3 linked regions of the Homo sapiens genome follow. The protein of the gene in region 1 interacts with the protein of each later gene in a pairwise test. Each region holds a gene or a part of one and is shown in the gene's direction. Other genes may lie near its edges.

Evidence for each region. Proteins that work in one complex are often made in the same cells at the same time.
Region 2: the proteins of CCDC125 (region 1) and FLYWCH1 interact in binary tests that used the Homo sapiens proteins (3 or more experiments, as listed by UniProt).
Region 3: the proteins of CCDC125 (region 1) and SPMIP2 interact in binary tests that used the Homo sapiens proteins (3 or more experiments, as listed by UniProt).

Annotation. Positions count from the first base shown.
Region 1 is NC_000005.10:69,301,779-69,308,803, reverse strand, and holds part of CCDC125 (coiled-coil domain-containing protein 125), read left to right. Parts: intron 1-775; coding exon 776-853; intron 854-1,901; coding exon 1,902-1,987; intron 1,988-4,874; coding exon 4,875-4,957; intron 4,958-7,025. UniProt on the Homo sapiens protein: May be involved in the regulation of cell migration.
Region 2 is NC_000016.10:2,935,931-2,942,955, forward strand, and holds part of FLYWCH1 (FLYWCH-type zinc finger-containing protein 1), read left to right. Parts: exon of another isoform or gene 1-327; coding exon of another isoform or gene 328-495; intron 496-709; coding exon of another isoform or gene 710-1,190; coding exon 1,191-1,454; intron 1,455-2,253; coding exon 2,254-2,526; intron 2,527-2,532; exon of another isoform or gene 2,533-4,050; intron 4,051-4,101; coding exon 4,102-4,162; coding exon of another isoform or gene 4,163-4,166; exon of another isoform or gene 4,167-4,231; intron 4,232-7,025. UniProt on the Homo sapiens protein: Transcription cofactor. Negatively regulates transcription activation by catenin beta-1 CTNNB1, perhaps acting by competing with TCF4 for CTNNB1 binding. May play a role in DNA-damage response signaling.
Region 3 is NC_000004.12:159,025,205-159,032,229, reverse strand, and holds part of SPMIP2 (protein SPMIP2), read left to right. Parts: intron 1-5,505; exon of another isoform or gene 5,506-6,167; intron 6,168-7,025.

The DNA of each region.
Region 1 (7,025 bases):
GAAAGTTCCAATCTTTCCCACATTTTCCTGTCTTCTTCTGAGCCCTCCAAACTGTCCCAATCTCTGCCTGTTACCCAGTTTCAAAGTAGCTTCCACATTTTTGGGTATCTTTTCAGCAATGCCCCACTCTACTGGTACCAAATTACTGTATTAGTCCATTTTTATGCTCCTGATAAAGACATACCCAAGACTGGGAAGAAAAAGAGGTTTAATTGGACTTACAGTTCCACATGGCTGGGGAGGTCTCAGAATCATGGTGGGAGGCGAAAGGCACTTATAACATGGCAGCAGCAAGAGAAAATGAGAGAGATGCAAAAGCAGAACCCCTGATAAAATCAACAGATCTCTTGAGACTTATTCACTACCATGAGAACAGTATGGGGAAAACCACCCCCATGATTCAGATTATCTCCCACCGGGTCCTCTCACAACATGTGGTAATTATGAGAGTACAATTCAAAATGAGATTTGGGTGGGGACACAGAGCCAAACCGTATCAGATGGTTTCCACTTTTTGACTGATGAATAGTACTGTTCTGAACACTTTCTTTGTGTGGAAAATTCATCCATTAATTCCCACATTCATTGGAAAAGAGCCAAACCAAGATCTCCTGACTTTTGAACTATCAGACTCTCCATAAAAGGTGGTCACTGTGAAATTCTTATGTCAATTCATCTTAATTTTCCATTGCCTTAAAATAAAAGAGAACTTCATGATGTACATAGGAGTGATTACAAATTTAATTTATACTGATGCTAGTTTTATTTTTCTTAGGCAATACTGGGCAAAGCCACAAGTCATACGCAGGCAGTGCTTCAAAAAACTATGGAACAAAACAGATCCTTGGAGAAGGTATTTGGTGCTTTTAGTGTAGACTTATTGAATCCAATAAGCTGTTAAATATAATTTCCCTAAACTCACCATACTAATGGATCTGTCACTTGTGCCTACCTTCTGCTAGGTGTGCTTCAGTTCTGATGGTCTTCCCTTTTGGAGTTTACAATCTAAAACAGATTGTCATGTGCACAATGAATTCAGGTTATTTTTATTTCCCCATGTTAAGGTAGTAGGAGGCCTGCCAAATTGGTACTTCTCATTTCTTCTTCTTTTTTTTTTTTTTTGAGATGGAGTCCTGCTCTGTCGCCCAGGCTGGAGTGCAGTGGCGCGATCTCTACTCACTGCGAGCTCTGCCTCCCGGGTTCACGCCATTCTCCTGCCTCAGGCTCCCAAGTAGCTGGGATTACAGGTGCCCGCCACCACGCCCAGCCAATTTTTTGTATTTTTAGTAGAGACAGGATTTCACCATGTTAACCAGAATGGTCTCGATCTCCTGACCTTGTAATCCACCCACCTTGGCCTCCCAAAGTGCTGGGATTACAGGCGTGAGACACCGTGCCCAGCCCATTTTTCTTCTTAAAAAAAATTTTTTTTTTTAAATCCTTATCGTTGCCTGGCAGGACGTACGTCTTTCTGACCATCTCATCTTCACTATAAAGGTAGTTAGGAATCATCCTAGATGGTCATGTCTCCTGTGCTTGGTGTGTTCTCCCTTGATGGGACCATTGAGTTAAGATTTCCAGGAGTGGATTTTGCTTGAGGTCTCTACATGCAGCGGAGGTGGGCACTGAGAAATCTAGGTGTAGCAGCCCAGCAAATTTTGAAGGCAAACAATTTGAAATTTTTTCTATATTAAGTGAGTTTTGGCAGAGTTGTTTTGAATGCTAAAGAGGCATGTTATATGTGTTTGCAAATGTCAGAGATACTTTTAGAGCAATAATTAATTTTTTCTCTTTAAACCATTTCTGAGAACTGATTATATGATTTATTTCAGCTATTCACAATGTCCTGAAATGATTTATTTGTAGTAATTTGCCATGAAGGTACTATTTTCTTTCCATAGGAAATAAATGCCTTGCAGTGGGAAATAGAATTTGATCATAATAGATTTAAAAATATAGAGGAATCTTGGATCCAAAAATATGACAGGTTTGTATATTACTCCATTATTTTTCTTTGACAACCTTTAAAATCTATGTAATTCAAAAGTAATTTATGCTTTCTTCTTTGAGCCAAGTGCAAAATATTACAAAATTTTTATTGCTTATCCACTTACTAGTCGCATATTTTTGTTAGTGTTAATTTTCCTTAAAGAAAAAAAATAGCATAGGCTGGGTGTGGTGTCTCACACCTTTAATCCCAGCACTTTTGGGAATCTTTGGCACTTGGATCTGAGGATCACTTGAGTCCAGGAATTTGAGACCAGCCTGGGCAACATGTTGAAACCCTATCTCTACAAAAATACAAAAAGTAACTGGGTGTGGTGGCTTGCACCTGTAGCCCCAGCTACATGGGAAGCTGAGGTGTGAAGATCACTTGGGCCTGGGAGTTGGAGGCTGCAGTGAGCCATGATTGCGCCACTGCACTTCAGCCTGGATGATAGAGTGAGTCCGTGTCTCAAAAATAAAACAAAACAAAAAAACAAAAACCAAAATAGTATAAACTCTATCTTAAAATACAGTGTAAGAATTATTTTAGAATTGGAACTATTTGTTTTTTTCAAACAAAATCTTTTGAGGGGCTGGGCATGATGGCTCACACCTGTAATTTCAGCACTTTGGGAGCCTGAGGTGGGAGGACTGCTTTGGTTCAGGAGTTCAAAACCAGCCTAGATGACATAGCAAGATCCTCATCTTGTTAAAAAAAAAAAAGATGAAAAATAAGATGGTTAAGATGGTAAATGTTTATGTTCTGACAATCAGCTCCAAAAAGAGAAAAAATATCTTTGGAACAACTTTTATTTGTGTGAGTTTATTTAATAACTTTAAATTATACACTTACTATAAAGTCAGTCATTTCAGTTGGGTATGGTGGCTCACACAATCCTATCGTGGCCCCAATCCCTGTTGGACTGAACAAAGGGAGACGAACGTGGGAATAAAAATAAAGACAAAAGAGTATATTTGGAAGAAGGGGTCAGGGGGCTCCTTGCTCCAGTGAACAAGGGTCCTGAGCTTTTAGCACCCTTCGTATTTATTGAGTAAAGGAGATAGGGAGGAGGTGGTTGTCAGTCAGCTGCTTGACTCGGTGCAGGCTTGCACAACTGCATTCTCTGAACAGTAGTCTCCAGATGTTCCAGTAGATAACCTCAAGGAGCACGGCGCCAGAGAGTGACTGCCCTCAGCAAACCTTCTGGCGGCAGGTGCAGATGTGAGTTTGCCTACATCCTGCATTCATGATAAACAGTTTGCTGTTTGATCATATAGCCTCAGTGGAATGCTAAGTTGGTCACGATCCTCTGGCTTTCGGCTCTCTACATAATCCCAGCATTTTGGGAGGCTGAGGCAGGTGGATCACTTGAGGCCAGGAGTTCTAGACCAACCTGGCTAATGTGGCGAAACCCTGTCTCTACCAAAAATACAAAAATTAACTGGGCGTGGTGGCACACACCTGTATCCCAGCTACTCAGGAGACTGAGGCAGGAGAATCGCTTGAACCCAGGAGGTAGAGGCTACAGGGACCTGAGACTGGGCCACTGTACTCTAGCTTTGATGACAGAGCGAGACCTTGTATCCAAAAAGAAAAAAAAACCAGAAAGACTGAATAATATTCCATGTTATGTATGTACGCCATTTTGTTTATCCATTCATTCCTGATGGACACTTGAGTTAACTCTACCTTTTGGCTATTTTGCATGATGCTGCTATGAACATGGGTGTACCCTATGTATCTTTTTTTTCCATGAAATACTTTGTTGGTTTTTTTTTTTTTAGAGCAGTTGTAGATTCACAACAAAATTGATCAGAAGGTACGGAGATTTCCCATATACACAGCCTCCCCCACTGACAACATCCCCCACCAGAGTGGTACATTTTTTATAACCAATGTTGATACATCATTATTACCCGAAGTCCATAGTTTACATGAGGACCTGTGTATGTAAGTTTCTGAAGGTGACCTAAGCATATAGTTGAAATTCAAATGGTTATTAAGTAAAGAGAATGAGTATGCAAAATGGATGGTTTAAAAATATTTCTGGTTCTGATTATGTCTCAGCTAAGAAGGGTTAAGAGTATGTTTAGTCCAGGCGCAGTGGCTCACGCCTGTAATCCCAGCACTTTGGGAGGCCGAGGTGGGCAGATCACTTGAAGTCAGGAGTTTGAGATCAGCCCAGCCAACATGATGAAACCACTTCTCTACTAAAACACAAAAATTGGCCGGGCGTGGTGGCGGGCGCCTGTAATCCTAGCTACTCAGGAGGCTGAGGCAGGAGAATCACTTGAACCTGGGAGGCGGAGGTTGCACTGAGTCGAGATCACATGACTGCACTCCAGCCTAGGTAACAGAGCAAGACTCCGTCTCAAAAAGAAAAAAAAAAAAAAAGGGTATGTTTAAAATCCTGGCCGGGCATGATGGCTCACAACTGTAATCCCAGCACTTTGGGAGGCTGAGGCGGGCTGATCACTTGAGGTCAGGAGTTCGAGACCAGCCTGGCCAACATGGTGAAATCCCGTTTCTACTAAAAATACAAAAATTAGCCAAGTGTGGTGGCAGACACCTGTAATCCCAGCTACTTGGAAGGCTGAGGCAGGAGAATCACTTGAACCCAAGAGGTGGAGGTTGCAGTGAGCTGAGATTGTGCCACTGCACTTCAGCCTGGGCGACAGAGTGAGACTCCATTTCAAAAAAAAAAAAAAAAATTCTTACCACATTCCTTTAAATTGTTTTTATTTTTGTGATACGTGTAAATTCCAGACTATTTTGAAGTAGGAAAAACTATATTTAGATTTTTGTGTTCCAATTATGGCAATAAAAATATTCTCGCTCAGCAAGGAAATATTAATGTTTTAGTTATTTGAAAGCCACTTTTTTCCAGGCTAAACTGTGAAAATGCAGTCCTCAAAGAGAATTTGAAAGTGAAAACAGAAGAAATTAAAATGCTGAAGTCTGACAATGCAGGTAATGATGATTTTTGTATTAAGAGCACATGTATCAATAAAGATAACATGCTAGTATTTTGAAATAATATACATTAAGTATAATAGAGGGGAGAAATGTATCATTTAGGTTTTTTAAATTTAAGAAAATTTATCAAGGTGAAATTCACATAACATAAAACTATTTAAAAGTGAACAATTCCTGGCTGGGCACAGTAGCTCATTCTTGTAATCCCAGCACTTTGGGAGGCCAAGGTGGGCAGATCATCTGAGGTCAGGAGTTCAAGACCAGCCTGGCCAACATAATGAAACTCCATTTCTACCAAAAATACAAAAATTAGCGAGACATGGTGGTGCGCACCTGTAGTCCCAGCTACTCAGGAGGCTGAGGCAGGTGAATCGCTTTTACTCTGGAGGCCGAGGTTGCAGTGACCCAAGATTGTGCCTCTGCACTCCAGCCTGGACAACAGAGTGAGACTCCATCTCAAAAAAAAAAAAAAAAAAAAAGTGAACAATTCTTGCCAGGCACAGTGACTCATGCCTGTAATCCCAGAACTTTGGGAGGCCAAGGCAGGAGGATCACTTGAGCTTAGGAGTTTGAGACCAGCCTGGGCAACATAGCAAAACCTTGTTTCTATTAGAAACAAACAAACAAACAACAACAACAACAGAAAAACCAAAATTAGCCAGATGTGGTGGCACTGGCCTGTAGTCCCAGCTACTTGGGAGGTTGAAGTGGGAGGATTGCTGGAGCCCAGGAGGTTGAGGCTGCAGTGAGCCATGATTGTGCCACTGCACTGCAGCTTGGGTGACAGAGCGAAACTCGGTCTCGAAAAAATAAGTTAACAATTCAGTGGCATTCACAAAGTTGCCTAACCACCACCTCTGTCTAGTTCCAGACAGTTCCAGTACTCCAAAGTAAAATCTCCTACCTATTAAGCAATTTCTCCCCATTTTCTCCTTTTTATTTAGTTTTCACTTAAAGCAAAATGGTAGAGCACCTGATATTTGAAGAACCTAAGTAGAAATGATATATATGTGTGTATATAATTTATATGTTATATATCTCTTATATAATGGTCTACCTTACGATGAAAGTTGATGCAAGGATAATAAGATATTTAATGTTAACTTTTTTTTTTTTTGAGACAGAGTCTCACTTTATCGCCAGGCTGGAGTGCAGTGGTGCAATCTTAGCTCACTGCAACCTCCGCCTCCTGGGTTTAAGCAATTCTTCTGCCTCAGCCTCCTGAGTAGCTGGGACTACAGGTGCATGCCACCACACCCAGCTAATTTTTGTATTTTTAGTAGAGACAGGGGTTTCACCATGTTGGCCAGGATGGTCTCAATCTCCTGACCTCGTGATCCGCCCGCCTCAGCCTCCCAAAGTGCTGGGATTACAGGTGTGAGCCACCGCGACTGGCCTTTTTTTTTTTTTTTTTTTTTTTGAGATGGAGTCTCACTCTGTTGCCCAGGCTGGAGTGCTGTGACGCCATCTTGGCTTACTGCAACCTCCACCTCCCAGTTCAGGTGATCCTCCTGCCTCAGCCTCCCAAGAAGCTGGGACTACAGGTGCCTGCCACCACACCTGGCTAATTTTTGTATTTTTAGTAGAGGCAGGGTTTCACCATGTTGACCAGGCTGGTCTCAAACTCCTGACCTCAAATGATCCACCCACCTTGGCCTCCCAAAGTGCTGGGATTACAGGTGTGAATCACCATGTCCAAACTGATGTTAACTTTTTACATATTTTATTTATTTATTTGTTTATTTATTTATTTATTTTCACACAGGGTCTTGCTCTGTTGCCCAGTTTGGAGTGCAGTGACACAATCTCAGTTCACTGCAACCTCCACTTTCTGGGCTCAAGAGATCCTCCCACCTCAGCCTCCCAAGTTGTTGGTACTACAGGCATGTTCCACCATGTCCAGCTAATTAAAAAATATATTATTATTATTATTATTATTATTTTGAGACAGAATCTCACTCTGTCGCCCAGGCTGGAGTGCAGTGGCACAATCTTGGCTCACTGTGACCTCTGCCTCCCAGGTTCAAGTGATTCTCCTGCCTCCACTTCCTGAGTAGCTGGG
Region 2 (7,025 bases), on another chromosome or scaffold:
GACAGTTTCACTCTTGTCGCCCAGGCTGGAGTGTAGTGGCGTGGTCTTGGCTCACTGCAACCTCTGTCTCCCAGGTTCAAGTGATTTTCCTGTCTCAGCCTTCTGAGTAGCTGGGATTACAGGTGCACACCACCACGCCCAGCTAATTTTTTGTATTTTTTTAGTAGAGATGGGGTTTCACCATGTTGGCCAGGCTGGTCTTGAACTCCTGACCTCGTGATCCGCCTGCCTCGGCCTCCCAAAGTGCTGGGATTACAGGCGTGAGCCACCGTGCGCAGCCCCTTGCTGGATATTTTCATCCGTGTGGAAGGGGATAAAGCGTGCCCCATGGTCACACCACCCCCTCCCGTGGCCTGGCGTCCCCACCTTCGTCCTGACCTCTTCTGTCTCGTGGTCCCCAGGCTCCTGTGCTGCTGTGCCCCTCAGGGTCCTCCTGCCTCCCGAGCCTCCCTGCTCCACATGGCCCCTGCCCAGCCCTCTCCATCCCTCTTGAAGGTAGTTCCACAGCCAGACACCCTCCCGCCCCCCGCTGGCCTCTCCTCTAGGGCTTGCTACCCACCCCCATCCCCTGCTTCCACTGCCACCCGATGTGTCCACGATGCCCCAGGCCACCTCCCCACCTCTGTGGCCCCTGAGCCTGCACGGAGGAAAGGGTATCCTCTGGGCAAGGCACAGCCACCCGCCAGGTCCTCCCTCTCACCACATCCAGGACAGTGGACGCTGCTCCCTGCCTCTTCCTCAGAGTCCTGGGGTCACACCTCTACCTGCGCGGCTCTCGGGGGCCACCCCTCTCAGCCCCATCCGGCTCCTGAGCAGCTTTGTCCCCAGAGGGCCCCGGGTCATTCCTCTGACCAACCAGGCACGGCGCACCCTGCATGCAAGCCTGGGCGGGTGCTGGGGACGGACGAGTGACGCAGCAGACACTGCCTCCCTGAAGGCATGGCAAGGTGGGACGCTTGGCCGCCACCTGCAGGGGCCTCACCTGACCAGTCCCCAGCCTCAGGAGGCGGACCCCAGCAGCTGGAGCCCCAGCAGAGTTGGGGGGATGGTGGCATCTGTGTCCTGGGCTCCGGGGCCACCTCACTGTGAGGAGGAGGTGTGGGCGTTGTGGGAGGTCTCATCTCGGGGCCATGCTGATCTGGGCTCTGAGAGCTGGTGTCCGCTGCTCCTCCCCTCCCATTTCTCAACAGGAGGCCCCGAGTTCCTGAAGACGCCCCTGGGGGGCAGCTTCCTGGTGTACGAGTCCTTCCTCTACCGGCGGGAGAAGGCGGCCGGGGAGAAGGTGTATTGGACCTGCCGGGACCAGGCCCGCATGGGCTGCCGCAGCCGCGCCATCACCCAGGGCCGGCGGGTCATGGTCATGCGCAGGCACTGCCACCCACCGGACCTGGGCGGCCTGGAGGCCCTGCGGCAGCGGGAGCACTTCCCCAACCTGGCGCAGTGGGACAGCCCAGGTGCGTGTGGAGGGTGCTGGGCTGGGTCTGCCTGGTCTCCCAGGACCTGTGCCCCACACGCTGGCTGGAGGCTGCCCGTGGGGTGTTGTGTGTTGTGCATGGTGGTCTGACAGCCGGGGCCATAAACTCCCCAGGGGCAGGAGGCTCCATCTGCGGGCTCCGAGCTCCTGCAGCTGGTCCTCTGGGTAGTGGGGACTGGCTGTCGGAGGTAGAAACCCACTCAGCTCTCTAGAGGAAGAGGATGGTGGCCAGGGGTGGCATTGGCAGCCACAGAGAGTGCTTGGCATCTGCTGACGGGCCGTACGGTGGATCCTGGACACTCTTGGTCTACCCCCACGCCACCCACACTGCTTCTAGTCTCACGGGGTTCTCTCTGGCCACCCCAACATCATGTGACCTTTTAGTTCAGCTTGTTAAAAGTCAGCTGCCAGCTGGCTGAGGGGTAGGTGGACAGGGAGCCAGGAGGCCCTGGTGCCCAGCCCAGAAAGGCTCAGCCCCTGCCCTGGGGGATGCACCTGCAAGCATGAGGTCTGAGGGGTTGGGAGAGTCCTTCAGGAGCATTCAGGGTCCAGTGCTTGCCAGGCCACGTGCCCAGTCATCCCCAGAGCCCTTGGAAAGGGCCAGCCAGCGTGGGAGTCTGGGCTGCAGGGCCCAGAGGGGAGGAGGGCAGGGACCACCGTGCAGCGTGCTAGGGGATCGCAGATTCCTGGTGGGGCCTGGCTGGGGGATACAAATCAGACCCCCAGCCCTGCCACCCAGGCCCCTGTGGCCCCACTCACAGTGTCACTTTCCCTTTCAGATCCTCTCCGGCCCCTGGAGTTCCTGAGGACTTCCCTGGGGGGCAGGTTCCTGGTGCACGAGTCCTTCCTCTACAGGAAGGAGAAGGCGGCTGGGGAGAAGGTGTACTGGATGTGCCGGGACCAGGCTCGGCTGGGCTGCCGCAGCCGCGCCATAACCCAGGGCCACCGCATCATGGTCATGCGCAGCCACTGCCATCAGCCTGACCTGGCAGGCCTGGAGGCCTTGAGGCAACGGGAGCGGCTCCCCACCACGGCCCAGCAGGAGGACCCAGGTACAGGCAGGCTGTGGGGCAGAGGCAGGGCTGTGGGCATCCTCATCTCTTCCAGCTCAGAACTGATGCCCCAGGCCAGGCACCCACTGAGCAGACTGCTTTTGTGCACACACAAATTATTCATATAAACAGAATGTGAAACCAGTCTTTGTTTTTTTTTTTTTTTTTTTTTTTGAGACTGAGTCTTGCTCTGTTGCCCAGGCTGGAGTGCACTGGCGCGATCTCGGCTCACTGCAAGCTCCGCCTCCCGGGTTCACACCATTCTCCTGCCTCAGCCTCCCGAGTAGCTGGGACTACAGGTGCCTGCCACCAAGCCCAGCTAATTTTTTGTATTTTTAGTAGAGACGGGGTTTCACCATGTTAGCCAGGATGGTCTTGATCTTCTGACCTCGTGATCCGCCTGTCTTGGCCTCCCAAAGTGCTAGGATTACAGGCGTGAGTCACTGTGCCCAACCTTTTTTTTTTCTTGAGTCAGAGTTTTGCTCTTGTTGCCCAGGCTGGAGTGCAATGGAGCCATCTTGGCTCACTGCAACCTCTGCCTCCTGGGTTCAAGTGATTCTCCTGCCTCAGCCTCCCGAGTAACTGGGATTACAGGTGTGCACCACCACACCCGGCCAAAACCAATCTTTAGAAAGCATTGTGTGTCTCACTGTCATTCATGTGAATATTAAGGGCCATGTCCTGTATAACAGTAACAAATCCAAGTTGGCCAGGCACAGTGGCTCACGCCTGTAATCCCAGCACTTTGGGAGGCTGAGGCAGGCGGATCACCTGAGGTCAGGAGTTCGAGACCATCCTGATCAACATGGAGAAACCCCGTCTCTACTAAAAATACAAAATTAGCTGGACATGGTGACGCATGCCTGTAATCCCAGCTACGCTGTAATCCCAGCTGCTTGGGAGGCAGGAGAATCACTTGAACCTGGGAGGCGGAGGTTGCAGTGAGCCAAGATCGCGCCACTGCCCTCCAGCCTGGGCAACAAGAGTGAAACTCCATCTCAAAAAAAGAGAAGAAAAGAAAACAGCCTGGCCAACATGGTGAAACCTTGAAAGAAAACAGCCTGGCCAACATGGTGAAACCCTGTCTCTAAAAAAAAAGTTTATAAATCAGCTGGGCACAGTGGTGCACGCTTGTGGTCTGAGCTCCTCAGAAAAGGGGAGGATCACTCTAGCCCGGGAGGTTGAGGCTGCAGTGAGCCATGCACTGCAGTCCAGCCTGGGTGACAGAACAAGACCCTGTCTTTACAAGAAATTTTTTTGAGAAAAGGATTTCTTTGAGAAAGCCACTATCGAGCTTACAGAGAAAGTTGTGCTGGAGGCCTGGCCTTTCATCTTTGATGTCTAGTTGACCCCCACTATTTTCCATGACAGCAGCTGAAGGTCAACTCTTAGGAGCTCAAGTAGCTGCTGTTACCTGGGAAGGTAATTGATGCGTTGAATTCCCAGCGTTGCTTCACCCGGTTGTCTTTCTCCTCACAGCCTTGAGGGCGTCGTTAACAAGGTGTGTGTCCTTGGTTCTGTCAGCTTCAACAAGAGAAGAATTATTAATTCATATTTTCAATTATTTTTCCACAGAAAAGATTCAAGTTCAGCTGTGCTTCAAGACGTGTTCTCCTGAAAGCCAGCAGATTTATGGGTAATTGTATTTGTTATCTAATGGTGCATGACCAATTACAACAAAACGTAGTGGGCTTAAAACAACAAATATTTGCTGTCTCAGCTTTTGTGGGTCAACATTATGGGAGTGGTTGGGCTGGGTGGTTCTGACTCCTGAGGTTGAAGAGAATTTGTCAGCCAGGGTGGCAGTCATCTGAAGGCCCAAGTGAGGCTGGAGGCCCTGCTCCTCACCATAGGGACCCCTCCTTGGGCCCACTTGAGCATCCTTCACATGACAGCCATGGGACAGAGAGAGAACAAGAGGGAAGCTGCCAGCAGCAGAATTCAGGTTCTTCTCAACCACAGCCAGGCCATAAAGCAAGAGTCCATTATTTTATTTTTTGAGATGGAGTCTGTGTGTGGCCCAGGCTGGAGTACAGCGGCATGATCTCAGCTCACTGCAAACTCTACCTTCCGGGTTCAAGCAATTCTCCTGTCTCAGCCCCCTGAGTAGCTGGGATTACAGGCATGTACCACCACACCGAGCTGATTTTTGTATTTGCAGTAGAGATAGGGTTTTATCATGGTGGCCAGGCTGAGTCTCAAACTTCTGACCTCAAATGATCCTCCTGTCTCGGGTCTCCCGAGTGCTGGGATTACAGGCAAGAGCCACTGTGCCCAGCCTTGTTATTGGTTTGTAATTACATCCCACTATGGTCAAAGAACATACTTTGTATCATTTCAGTCCTTTCACGGCTGGATACAGTGGCTCATACCTGTAATTCCAGCACTTTGGGAGGCCAAGGCAGGCAGATCATTTGTAATTCCAGCACTTTGGGAGGCCAAGGCAGGCAGATCATTTGAGGTCAGGAGTTCGAGACCAGCCTGGCCAACATGGTGAAACCCCATCTCTACTAAAAATACAAAAATTAGTCAGGCATGGTGGTACATGCATGTAATCCAAGCTATTCGGGAGGCAGAGGTTGCAGTGAGCCAAGATTGTGCCACTGCACTCCAGCCTAGGTGACAAACAAAAACCAAATCAAAAACAGAGAAATTTGGGAAACTCAGAAATACGTAGAAATTAAAGAACACACTTATAAGAAACCAGTGAGTCAGACTGGGCATGGTGGCTCACGCCTGTAATCTCAACACTCTGGGAGGCAGAGGCAGGAGGATCACTTGAGCCCAGGAGTTTGAAACCAGTTGGGGCAACAGAGCATGACCCTGTGTGTAATTTAAAACAAACAAAACAATGAGCCAAAGAAGATAATTATAAAATACTTTGAAATAAAACTTATGGGATGCACTGAAAGCCGTGCTTAGAGGGAAATCTATAGCTAAAAACACTTCTATTAAAAAGGAAGAAGCCTGGGCAACATGGTGAGACCTCGTCTCTGCCAAAAACTCAGCCAGTCATGGTAGCATGTGCTGGTAGTATCGCTTGAACCTGGGAGATTGAGGCTGCAGTGAAGCATGATTGTACCACTGCACTCCAGCCTGGGAGACAGAGCAAGATCCCATCTCTAAATGAATAAACAGGGCCAAGCATGGTGGCTCACACCTGTAATCCTAGCATTTTGGGTGGCTAGGGTGGGAGGATCGCTTGAGCCCAGGAGTTCCATACTAGCATGGGCAAGACCTCATCTCCACAAAAAATAGAAAAACTAAAAAAAAAAGAACTAAAAGTCTGGGCGTGGTGGCTCACACCTGTAATCCCAGCACACTGGGAGACCGAGGGAGGTAGATCACGAGACCACGGGTTCAAGACCAGCCTGACCAACATGGTGAAACCCCATCTCTACTAAAGATAGAAAAATTAGCCAGGCGTGGTGGTGGGAGCCTGTAGCAGGAGAATTGCTTGAACCCAGGAGGTGGAGGTTGCAGTGAGTCGAGATTGCGCCACTGCACTCCAGCCTGGGCGACAGAGCAAGACTCATCTCAAAAAAAAAAAAAAAAAAAAAAAAAAAACTGAAGCAGAAGGAAGGAAATAAATAATAAATGAAACCAAAAGTTGGTTCTGTATAAGGATCAATAAAATTGACAAATATTTAGCTCTATCTACAGATCAAAAAAATTGAAAAGCAAGAATACTGAAAATACTAAAATCAGGAATAAAGATGAGACCTTACTATGGACCTCATTCTGGCAGAGTCTCATTCTGACACCCAGGCTGGAGTGCAGTGGTGCCATCTCAGCTCACTTGAACCTCACCCTCCTGAGTAGCTGGGACTACATGCACGCACCACCACGCCTGGCTAATTTTTCTATTTTTAGTAGAAACGGGGTTTTCCCATGTTGTCCAGGCTGGTCTCCAACTCCTGGGCTCAATCAGTCCACCTGCCTTGGCCTCCCAAAGTGCTGGCATTACAAGCATGAGCCGCAATGCTTGGCCCCAGCTCATTCTCTAAGACCAGTATCACCCTGATATCAAAACCAAGCAAAGGAATCACAAAGAGAAAACTACAGACCAGTATTTCTTAGGAACGTAGAATACCAGCAAACAGAATCCAGCAACATAAAAAAGGATTATATACCATGACCAAGTAAGATTTATCCCAGGAATGCATCAACATGCAAAACCAATTAATGTAACACAGCAGGCCTGAGACTGCTGCCCTAAGAACAGCCTGTGTGCAAGGTTCACCCTTGGCTGGCATCTGGGAACTTTTTTTTTTTTTTTTTTTTTTTTGAGACGGAGTCTCACTCTGTCGCCCAGGCTGGAGTGCAGTGGTGTGATCTTGGCTCACTGCAAGATCACTGTGAGTGATCCCAGGTAGCTGGGATTAGAAGTGCGCACCACCACGCTCAGCTAATTTTTGTATTTTTAGTGGAGACGGGGTTTCGCTATGTTGGCTAGGCTGGTCACGAACTCCCGACCTCAAGTGATCCACCCGCCTCGG
Region 3 (7,025 bases), on another chromosome or scaffold:
TTTTTTTTTTGAGACAGTCTCCCTCTGTTGCTCAGGCTGGAGTGCAGTGGTATGATCTCAGCTCACTGCAGTCTCTCCCTCCAGGGTTCAAGTGATTCTCGTGCCTCAGCCTCCTAAGTAGCTGGAATTACAGACGTGAGCCACCATGCCCACTAATTTTTTGTATTTTTAGTAGAGATGGGGTTTCACCATGTTGGCCAGGCTGGTCTCAAACTCCTGACCTCCGGTGATCTGCCCGCCTCAGCCTCCCAAAGTGCTGGGATTACAGGCATGAGCCACCACAACCGGCCCCCATCAATATTTTTTAAAATCATTTTTATTACTTCAAAGAAGTAGATATGAATCCTTTTTTGCTTTTGCCTTTTACAAATTTTATTGTGACTATTTTAAAACACACGCCAATGAACTCCCACTTACCTGTCACCCATATTCAACATTTATCAAAATTTTGCCACATTTGACTCACATCTCTCGTATTTTTCTTGTAAAAATATTTTAAGCCCAGATATCATATTATTTCACTTACATATTTTATTGTGCATCTGAAAAAATATGAACATATTCTTACATAGTCACATTGCCGTGACTGCACCTAACAAAATTAATAACTATCATTTGGCATCATGTAATTAACAACTCCATAACAAAATTTTCCTGATTGTCTCTAAAATGTATTTTTACAGTTGATTTTGAGAATAAGGATCCAACACACATTGCATTCAGTTGTGTTTTCTCTTTTTGTCTATTTTAAACTGGTGCAGTCTTCCCTTCTTTTTTCCCTGCCATTTACTTGTTGCAGAAACTGGATCAGTTATGCAGCAGAAATGTCCAACGTTCCGAATTTGTCAATTACTTCCTTCTCATATCATTTAACTTGTTCCTTTATTCTCTGTAAACTGAATTTGGCTCTAGAGGCTTGATTATAGCCAAGTTCAACTCTTTAGGGATGCTTATGTCTTAGATGGTACTGCAGTCAGTTCACAGAAATCAAACTTTTGAGCTGTTCAAGAATAATAATTTTAACTCCTATAAGGCCCATCACTTACCACCTTTCTAACCTATTGGAGCTTGGAGCTCTTTCCTCCATGTTTGGAACTGTTTTTAATATAAAGTCCGTGTTTTCATAAAAACATTAGTTTAAGTGAAGTACCCAGGCTAGGCAAACAAAAGATTGATTTAATCCATGCAAATATTGTGTAATTGTGATAAAAACAAGAAAAATATCTTGTCACTATTAATAATTAATATGACAACAAAATATCATGAGAAATCATTTAGAAATTATTTTGGATGTCAATAATGTAAAAAAAACCATGTAGAGGATGAGAAAATACTGAGGAATTTCGCAGCAATTCTGAGAGTTACTTTAGAGCACTTTTAAGAGTTTCATAGGATTTTTATTGATTTCTAATTTAATTTTAAAGTGAAATTTTGGCTGGACGTGGTGGCTCACACCCTGTGATCCCAGCACCTGGGAGGCCGAGGCAGGTGGATCACTTAAGGTCAGGGGTTTGAGACCAGCCTGACCAACATGGTGAAGCCCCATCTCTACTAAAAATACAAAAATTAGCTGGGAGTGGTGGCATACCCGTGTAATCCCAGCTACTCAAGAGGCTGAGGCATGAGAATTGCTTGAACTCAGAAGGCAGAGGTTGCAGTGAGCCAAGATTGCACCATGGCACTCCAGCCTGGGCAACAGAGTGATACTCTGTCTCAAATAAATAAATAAATAAATAAATAAATAAATAAATAAATAAATAAATAAAATTTTGCTTTCTCTTGGCATAGGCATAACACTACTCTTTTTTTTTTCTTTTGAGGGAGGGTCTCACTCTGTCACCCAGGCTAGAGTGCAGTGGCACGATTATGGCTTACTGCAGCCTTGACCTCCCTGGGCTCAGGTGATCCTCCCACCTCAGCCTCCCAAGTGGCTGGGACTATAGGTGTGTACCATCACTCCTGGTTAATTTTTGTATTTTTGTAGAGATGAGGTTTCACCATATTGCCCAGGCTGGTCTTGAACTCCTGGGCTCAAGAGATCTGCCCACTTCGGCCTCCCAAAGTGCTGGGATTGCAGGCATGAGCCACCGCACCCAGCCAACACTATTCTTTTATTTGTCATTTATAACTACAGTTATTTTAATTTTCATTTTAAAAAATTTCCACTGATGCTTCATTATTCTATGTGATGATTCACAGTATATATCTAGCTGGTATACTCGACCACTTAACTAATGTGATCACTCATCAAGTCTTATTTTTCTATCAAATTTTGATATATTTCCTTTTAAAATACATTTTTGATGCTAATTTTTTATCCTACATATTTGAAATCCAATTTAACAAATTGAGTGCCAATTAAGTACTAAAAACTTGTCCATTAGCATTGGAGGATACAAAAATATACATGAAAAAAATGTTCTCTTTTCTAGAAGCTTATAATCTATTGGATAACCAGAACATAATAGGGTTGATTTGCTCAGTCTGAATATCCATCACAGCATAGTGTGGCATCCAAAGGAAACACAAATCCAATTCCAAAAACCCTGAGAAATAACAGGAAATTACCTCACATAACACTACACAAAACTCAGCCATATGTTTTGTTTTGTTTTCCCACTCATTTCTCTTCTTTTTGAGTATCATAGTTAGAGCATAAGTTACTTCCTACATTGCAGATGGATCTTGGAATTTATTTAGCTTTCAATTAATAAAGGAATTGAAATTCTTTTTGAAAAAACTATCGGTGGATCCAACTTTTAAAACCTTTTTAAAAAGTTGATATATAACATACTCTATTAAGTACATTAATTTGTCTTTAGCTTGATAACATTTTACAAAGTGAGCACCTTTATGTATGCACTTTTAGATTAAGATACTGAATATTTTTATCACTCTAAAAAGTTCCTGTATGTCCTTTCCCAGTCAATCCTCCCACAATCAGATGCTGTTCTGATTTCTATAATTCATGTTTTCGATAACTGTGAGTTTTAATCTAATAGGGCAAGCTAACCATCTGTACTTTTAAAACATTTATCTGCTGGCTATTCTTCCACAGAAGTTTTACTACCAATTTGCTAAGTTCTGTAATGACATAGTGAGGAGATTTTATAAATAATGTTTGTTTGTTTTTTTGAGACAGAGTCTTGCTCTGTTGCCCAGGCTGGAGTGCAGTGGCACGATCTCAGCTCACTGCAGTCTCTGCCTCCTGGATTCAAGCGATTCTCCTGCCTTAGCCTCTCGAGTAGCTGAGATTTCAGGTGTGCGCCACCACGCCCAGCTTATTTTTGTATTTTTAGTAGAGATGGGGTTTTGCCATGTTGGCCAGGCTGGTCTCGAACTCCTGAGCTCAAGTGATCCACCAGCCTTCACCTCCCAAAGTGCTGGGTTACAGGTGTGAGCCACCGCACCTGCCTAGAAAATGTTATTTTTGTATTACAAAGATTTTACTATAAAAACCTTATAAACAAAATTAGGAAGAAAATTTAAAACTACTTTAGAGCATGGTTATATATTTTTAAAACATCTGTTTACATACAAATGACATTAATTTGTTTACCCAGTTCCAGGTCCTATGCAATTTTAAAGTTTAAAACTTGGGCTGAATGCGGTGGCACACACCTATAATCCTAGCATTTTGGAAGGAAGAGGTGGGAGGATTGCTTGAGCCCAGGAGTTTGAGACCAGCCTGGGCAACACAGAGAGAGTTCATCTCTACAAAAAATTCTAAAAATCAGCCGAGTGTGGTGGTGCACACCTGTGATCCTAGCTACTTAGAAGGCTAAGCCAGAGGATAGCTTGGGCCTGGGAGGTCGAGGCTGCAGTGAGCTGTGATCACACTACTGCACTCCAGCCTGGCCAACAGAGCAAGGCCCTATCTCGAAGGAAAAAAAAATACTTAAAAATTACATTTCTTTAAAAATACATTCTTTAATTCAGATTTTTCTTCATTAATTCCTACTTGGCTCAAATTAAATATAGTTAAGAAATAGTTAATATAAGACATAAAATTAAAAAGGCACTATAACAGATAATCTAATTTAACCTATTTTTTCAGATGGGAATACTCAGGGTTCAGGTAAGTTAAGTGACTTGCTGAAGGCCACACAGCCTTGTAAGAAGGATGGAAGCTTCTGCCTGCTCCCTGTTTATATGGGGTATTTATGTGCCTTACATCCAGATTACTGACTAAATAAAAGTATTAATATATTTAGTCAGCCATCATATACCTACTAGAAAGTCTGCTCATGTAAACCAGAAATATTACAGAACTCTACCTTACAAAGGAGTGATCACAGCATGAAATTTCTGTTAGAAATACATTAGAATTGGAAATACTCTCTAGGAAATGGCCAAAAAACGATATGATGAATGAAACTGTAAGTGGTCGGAGAAGCACATAAATGTATATGTAATTTTGAAATGTATTGCTCCATTAGCCAGCATTTCAGACCCACTTATTCATCTTATTTTTTGCTCTGTGAAACTGTCATACTAATAGTTATGTCTCAGATTCAATTATTTTAAAAATAGAAAATGACTTCACACTGAATTGCCAGTGGTTTCCTGTTTGAAGAAATAATAAAATAGTCCTACTGCAAATGCAGTTTAAGTCCCAGCACTATAATCCACAAGACAACTCTTTTAGATTTTTAAAAACTAATTCATGACAAAAGCTTACACATTTTAATGGTACTGAAACATTGGGTTGACTAAACTGCATTTTATTTGTCTATTTTTATTTTTACCTGCCTTTTATTCTGTTGTCATAGCATGCAGTTTGCCCTGAATCAAAATTTGTTCTATTACTTTAAGATATATTGTAGACAATATACATATGTCCTTACCATGATTCTTCAGTCTACTCAAAAATAATAAATTAAAAGCTAAGATAGTTGGAAATGATCTTCTGATAGAATATAATGGGCCATTTATTGAAAACAAAATTGCCAAACATCTAGTTAGCTTAATTATATCCAGTTGCAGTGATTTATTTGATAAGGACATTAGATATTAGGCGTTGCTATCATAATAGCAAAAGTGGGAGACCTTATTCATTGTCCTCCATCAAACACTGTTCTTTTCATAAGACATATTATTACATTTACAAAACTATAAGTGTTACATGAAAGCCTTATCTATAGGTGACAGCAACTCCAAATCAATCCTACCTTAAATTGTTGGTCACCTAACTCAACACAGTGTAATTTGCAGAAAAAAAAAAATCAGTTGCTGCTATCCCTTTGAAAAGCACCTGAACCAACCCCTTAGAAGAGGACTTCTAAGGAAAAGCTTTGTCTTAACTTCAAGTTTTTTGGTTTTGTTTTATATATGCATAAATATAAATATATAAATATAAATATATGTATATAAATAATTACTGCATAAGCTAAGATGGAAGGGAGGAGGATTTATTTGCCTTTCCATGGCTTTATTTAATTTTCCAAAGTTGATCCTTTGTAGGTTATGTTAATATCACTTCTTAATTTTTTTATTTTTTATTTTTTAGCACAAACACATTTATTTATTAACCAAAGGGATGATCCTAATTAATCTGATACTGAAACAGCTGCATGTAAAATGTTTGTGATAAAGATAATTGAACACAGTAATGAAAAAAAAGAAGCAGTATGGAGATTTGCCCATTGAACTGAGCTTGTTGATTTTCATAGCTATTTCCTGTCCAAAGTGATGATGAAATTTTTATTCTACTTTTTTATAGATCTGAGAACAGGTGACATTGTTCATGACACAGTCTACCATGAATTTCCCATCTTTCAATTTTCTTGTTATTGTGCTTTTCTTCCCATCCCACTCCTGATGCTGAACCAATGATCCATCTGTAAAGTTGTAGAGAGTCTGAGTTTTTTTGCTATGAGCTGTAGTTTCTTCAAACTTCTCTCCCAGGGTACGAGAAAACTGTGCTGTTTTCTAAGTGCTCTGAGTTTTTATGGTGAGGTTTTTGTCATCACAAATGATGATACACTCTGGCTTGGCCATTGTGCCCATTTTTCACAAAGCTATTCCCACTCCTAGTTCCTTCACGTATTCATCAAGGCCTTTGCTGTCCACTAGGCATCATCTTCCATCTGCTGAACAGTGGTCATGGTGGGCATAGGAGGGTGTGTGGAGCAAGCTTAGCAAGGTCGGCATGGGCAGCGCACTGTGAATATCACTTCTTTAAATCAGGATGAAATGCTCTTGATTAAGCAAAAAGAAGTTTCTGTTGTTGAAACAGGATGTGAAAAAATTATTAAATGCAAGATGAGTTGATTGTTTACTGTGTGCCAGGCCCTGTGCTACCTACTAGGAAATAGGTGTAAGCATGAAGATCCTGCTTCAAGAAGCAAAAACTGTAAACTTAGACACCAATGTCGGCTTTCCCCTTAACTCTTTTGAACTCAGTTTTTAAAAAATCTGTAATTTGGGGGATATAAGGTTTTTATAAGGTTTTCTATCATGGTTTAATGAAATGAAAGCACCTGTAAATAATATGAATTTAATAATTTTTTTAAACTGTTTTTTTCTCTTGAGAAGTTGATTATCTGGGGGAGATTGGTGCTGGGGAAAGGACACAAAACCATCTTAAAATTCTTTTTTTTTCTTAATAAGCCAACCAAGTACACCTTATTTCCCAAAGTCTGAAGCCATAAGCAGGTTTTTAAAATACAGGAAGAAATAATCTAAGATTATTTAAGCAAATGGTTTTAAAACTTTAATGTGGAAATTATTCTCCTGGAGAGGCTTGTTAAAATGCAGATTTTGGGGTGGGTGTGCTGGCTCACTCCTGTAATCCCAGCAGTTTGGGAGGCCGAGGTGGGGGGATCACTTGAGCTCAGTAGCTCGAGACCAGCCTGGCTAACATGGTGAAACCTCGTCTCTGCTAAAAATATAAAAATTAGCCAGGTGTGGTGGTTCACGTCTGTAATCCCAGCTACTTGGAAGGCTGAAGCAGGAGAATTGCTTGAACCCAGGGGATAGAGGTTGCAGTGAGCCAAGATCATGCCACTGCACTCCAGCCTGTG